Regions from separate parts of the Homo sapiens genome. Here region 2 is linked to region 1. A link means that fine-mapping ties the variant in region 1 to the expression of a gene that starts in the linked region. Tissue or cell type: skin. Region 1 holds a variant in brackets; the other region holds the start of a gene. All regions are shown on one strand. Distances are between the middles of the regions.

What was found. PIP is the estimated chance that this variant, and not a neighbour inherited with it, causes the effect.
Region 2: PRICKLE2 starts here. The variant in region 1 is fine-mapped to the expression of PRICKLE2 in skin (TwinsUK, PIP 0.95).

What each region holds. Positions count from the first base shown.
Region 1 is chr3:64,113,898-64,116,658 of GRCh38, reverse strand. The region is part of intron 7 of PRICKLE2 (prickle planar cell polarity protein 2); the gene reads left to right. Among named protein-coding and RNA genes, the nearest start is that of PRICKLE2-AS2, 12 kb to the right of the region's middle. The variant T/A (reference allele first, on the strand shown) is at 1,148.
Region 2 is chr3:64,223,918-64,226,548 of GRCh38, reverse strand. It overlaps PRICKLE2 (prickle planar cell polarity protein 2), which reads left to right and starts at 1,083. Exons shown (of 8, transcript NM_198859.4): 1 at 1,083-1,639. RefSeq lists a silencer at 902-1,196.

The sequences.
Region 1 (2,761 bases):
ATTCAATTTCTTCCTGGTTCATTCTTGGAAGGGTGTATGTGTCCAGACATTTATCCATTTCTCCTAGATTTTCTAGTTTATGTACATAGAGGTGTTCATAATATTCTCTGATGGTTGTTTATATTTCTGTAGGGTAAGTGATAATATCCTTCTTGTCATTTCTGATTGTGTTTATTTTAATCTTCTCTCTTTTCTTATTAGTCTAGCTAGTGGTCTATCTATTTTATTATTTTTTTCAAGAAAACCAGCTCCTGGATTCATTGATCTTTTGAATGGCTTTTTTGTGTCTCAGTCTCCTTCAGTTCAGCCCTAATTTTGATTATTTTGTGTCTTCGGCTAGTTTTGGGATTTCTTTGCACTTGATTCTCTAGTTCTTTTAGTTTTTATATTAAGTTGTTAACTTGAGATCTTTCTAACTTTTTGATGTGAACATTTCAGTGCTATAAGTTTCCTGCTTAACACTGCCTTAGCTGCATCCCAAAGATTCTGATATGTTGTATCTTTGTTGTCATTACTTTCTAAGTACTTCTTCATTTCTGCCTTAATTTCATTATTTACCCAAAAGTCATTCAGCAGCAGGTTATCCAATTTCCATGTAATTGTATGGTTTTGAGTGAATTTCTTAGTCTTGATTTCTAATTTGATTGTGCTGTGGTCTGAGAGATTGTTTGTTATGATTTCAGTTCTTTTGCATTTGATGAGGAGAATTTTACTTCTGATTGTGTGATCTATTTTAGAATATATGCCATGTGGTGATGAGAAGAATGTGTATTCTGTTTTTTTGGGTGGAGAGTTCTATAGATATCTATCAGGTCTGCTTGATCCAGAGCGGAGTTCAGGTCCTGAACATCTTTGTTAATTTTTTCTTGATGATCTGTCTAATATTGTCAGTGGGGCTGTAAATCCTGCCACTATTATTGTGTGGGAGTCTAAATCTCTTTGAAGGTCTCTAAGAACTTGCTTTTTGAATCTGGGTGCTCCTGTGTTGGGAACATATATATTTAGGATAGTGAGATTTTCTTGCTGAATTCCACCCTTTACCATTACATAATGCCCTTCTTTGTCTTTTTTGATCTTTGTTGGCTTAAACTCTGTTTTGTCAGAAACTAGGATTGCAACTCCTGCTTTTTTCTGTTTTCCATTTGCT[T/A]GGTAGGTTTTTCTCTATCTCTTTATTTTGAGCCTGTGTGTGTCTGCATGGGAGATGGGTCTCTTGAAGACAGCATAATAATGGGTCTTGGTTCTTCATGCAGCTTGCCACACTGTGTCTTTTAATTGGGTCATTCAGCCCATTTACATTTAAGGTTAGTACTGATATGTGTAGATTTAATCCTGTCATCATTATGTTAGCTGGTTATTTTGCAAACTTGTTTATGTAGTTTCTTTACAGTGACACTGGTCTGGGTACTTCAGTGTGTTTTTACAGAGGCTGGTAATGGTCTTTCCTTTGCAAATTAAGTACTTCCTTCAGGAGCTCTTGTAAGGCAGGTCTAGTGGGAACAAATTCCCTCAGCATTTGCTTGTCTGAAAAGGATCTTATTTCTCCTTTGCTTATGAATCTTAGTTTGGCCGGATATGAAATTCTGGGTTGGAATTTCTTTTCTTTAAGAATGTTGAATATTGGCCCCCATTCTTTTCTGGCTTACAGGGTTTCAGCTGAGAAGTCTGCTGTCAGTCTGATGGGCTTCCTTTTGTAGATGACCTGATCTTTCCCTCTAGCTGCCTTTAACATTTTTTTCTTTTATTTTGACCTCAGAAAATCTTATGATTATGTGTACTGGGGATAATCTTCTTTTGAAGTATCTTAAGAATGTTGGCCTCTCTAGCTAGGTTGGGGAAGTTCTCATGAATGATATCTTGAAGTATGTTTACTAAGTTGGTTCCATTCTCCCCATCTCTTTCAAGGACACCAATCAGTCATAGATTTGGTCCCTTTACATAATCCCATATTTCTCAAAGGTTTTGTTTATTCCTTTTCATTCTTTTTTTTTTCTATTCTTGTCTGCCTGTCTTATTTCAAAAAGCCAGTCTTCAAGCTCTGAGATTCTTTTCTCCAGTTACTCTATTCTATTAATACTTGTGATTGTGTTGTGAAATTCTTGTAATGGGTTTTTTTAGCTCTCTAAGGTCAGTTATGTTTTTCTCTATATTGGCTATTTTGTCTGTCAGCTCCTGCATTGTTTTATCATCATTTTTAGCTTCCTTGCATTGGGTTTCAGTGTACTGAGCTCAATGATCTTCATTCCTATCCATATTCTGAATTTCATTTCTGTTATTTTAGCTATCTTAGCCTCAGCCCAGTTATGATTCCTTGCTGGAAAGGTGATGCGGTTGTTTGGAGGAAAGAAGGCACTCTGGCTTTTCGTATTTTCAGCATTCTTGCCCTGATTCTTTCTCAAATTTGTGGGCTTATCTACCTTCAATCTTTGAGGTTGCTGACCTTTGCATGGTTTTTTTTTTTTTCTTAATCCTATTTGATGACTTTGAGGGTTTGATTTTGGTATGAGATGGATTCAGCTGACTGGCTTCATTTTGGGGAGATTTTAGGGGGCCAACACCCAGCTCCCAACTGCTAGACTGTGCTCTTACTCTGGGGGACTTGTATTGGGCCCCAGCTTTGTTATCTGGCTCTGCGACATTTGGAGTCCACTGCACTGGAGGTGCCAAGGTGTGGCAGCTGTAACAGTGCTAGCAGATGCAGGGGTGCCTACCTCCCTGTGGGTGTTCACCACAATGACAGAGGCAGCATAGCTGGGTGGAGTGG
Region 2 (2,631 bases), 110 kb before region 1:
TGAAAGCAGAGACTGTGTTTATACCTAGCCTTTAGAGCTGTGCATGGCATAGAGTACGTGCTTAGTAAATATTTATTGAATGAGTGAATGGTACAGATGAGGTTATTGAAGATCCCACAAGTTAAGTTACTTGCCTAAGATCACACTGCTAGCAGGAAGGAAAGGCAGGATTTGAACACAGGGCTCTCCAAATGTATAGATTCCTTTCTTCCAGATTGCTTGGTTAGGCCGCCTAGTGGTGTATAAAAATGGAGCTCGGAGACCCCAAAGGTATTCAACAAAAGCTCTATCTGAGGTCTAGGAAATGTGGATTCTGACCCATCCTTGCTGAAATCCTGGTGTGACTTTAGAAAAGTCCTTTCTCCAGTTGTCTCCATTTTCTAATCTGTAAAATGAGGAGATGGAAGCAATGCTCTCTGAGGGTCTCAGGGTCTTCAGATGCCCTGGGAAGGTTTATGCTTTGTCTTCTTCTGCATGCAGTTGGAATTGGGGTAAGGGGTTAAAGGGCAGCTGACTGACTCACCACCCAAGCACGTGAGGAAAGGAGTCACTTGTGCTTTATTTCGAGGTGCACAAAAACTCAAAGGTGACATAGTCTCAGGCCAAAAAACAAGCAACACCCGAAAATGAAAGTTGAAGAGAGAAGAGAAAGAAAAAAAAAAAGGAGAGGCATTTTTGAAGGCTTGACACAGCATTTAATTAAAAAAAGAGTGCTCTGATTCCACTCCTAGGTTGGTGCAGCATATAATCTGAAACAGGCGCTCAGGTTGATAATTGTGCCCAGATCTGAACCTTGGCACCTAAGAGCACAGCTTTTAAGAAGAAAAAAAATAGGCATGTGTCTTTAAAGCCTCTCTTCTTATATGTGATTTTTTTCATGCTCATTTGGAGGTTACGTAGCTGGGCCTTTGCATCCAGCAAAGGCTTCCTTCCCCTCTCCCTGGCTTGGGGATTATTGATTTGGAAGGCAAGGCTAATTTACATGTAAATAAATCTCAGCACTGGGCAGCAGGATGGGACGTCCAGATGCCGTGACTGACTTGCTGACATCACAGCTTCATTAGCATGCGGAGGATGCAAGCACTGCAACAGCGACTTCTCAGGCACCACCAGCAGCGCCACCGAGAGTTATTATTATTTTTTGACCAAGCAGCACATTTCCTGGTTCAGTGGCTTGAGCTCTGTGAGCAGCTGACTAGTCACCCCGGGTCTGGCTCAGGATCAGCTGGTGACGCTGGGCTGGAGTCTATGACTTCTTCCTTCAGATTGTCATGAAGAAGGGGAGTTAAGAGGAAACTGGGGGTCCTCCGGAAGGCGATCTGAGCACTCAGGCTGATCTAGAGGAAGAGTAGAAGTCATACTTTTTTTCTCTTGCTTGGTGAATTCCCCAGCAGAGTCTGGATCCAGCAGTGCTGTTTTCCCTGAGGGAATGTGGAGCAGCTCGGCTTGAGTCTGTTGCCAGCTTCAGGAAGGGTTCAGACTGAAAAGGGGGTTTGAGGAGAAGATGCTTTGGCTGCCTGAGGTCCTGCTTGCGTTCTTAGAAGTCAGATCCAGGGAGAAAGTGAACTGGGACAATTGACAAGCTCCAAGGGTCTGGCAGAAGCTTCCTCCGAGACTGGGCATTTCATCCTCCCTGGAGGTGGGTAAGAAATTTGCTCTAATTCACAAATTAAACAGCAGTATATTTTCTAAGGAGGATGAGAAAGCCAGATCTAGGGCCTTTGCACTGGGGGAGGATATTGGGTCTTCGTTTTCTTGGCCAGGTAGCATTTTTGGTGGCCCTGCGACCCCTTTTGCCTTTTCTATGCTGATTAGAAAGCTCGATTACAAAGTGTTATGTCACAGCTCTAGGGAGTCCTGAAGAAACGCTTAAATCTTGATGCTTAAGAAGAAGCAGCGTTTCTCTAAAAGTGTAGCTTTCTTTAAAAAACCATAATAATATGGGGAAAGGGGCTAACAGACCAAATACCTGATAGCGTTCATGTACAGTAGTCATTTCAACACATGATGTCAGAAACCATTAGGGGATCTGAGGAACAAGGACTCAGCTGAGACTTCCAGGTAAAGAAATGGCTTTCAAATTATTTAGGTTTAATTTTAGACACTGCTTTCAGATTAGAAATGGTGACAGAGCTTCAGAATATGACTGCATAGCCTGGCTGAACACATGATTCGGTTTGCCCTCTATGCTGGGTTTCTTGAGGGAGTGATCATAGTTAGTTCTCCTCACTCTTGGCTTCTCGAAAACCAATCATAGCATTACTAATTTGCCATGGGGGTCTTGCAATGAAATACAGATTTTTAATCCCATGGTTTTTTGTTATGTGGTCTTGGACTATGCTGGGGTCCAGTGGGACTTTTATGAATCATAAATAATCCAGGCTGGGCCAAATCACACTGAGGTTAGCGATCCATACCAGATGTGATGCCATCCGCTGGTCCAAATGTGGCTCTTGTCTAACTTAGGCACATAGATTATTTCCCCAGTGAGAGAGTTCTGCTTCCCATATCAATGCATGTATGAGCACAGTCAGGGGAGGGCTCCAGTGTGCCATGAATATGTAGACATAGACTGCCGTGTACTGAATCTGCAGCTGGTAAGGCTGTGATTTGCTTTGCCTGCACATCTCT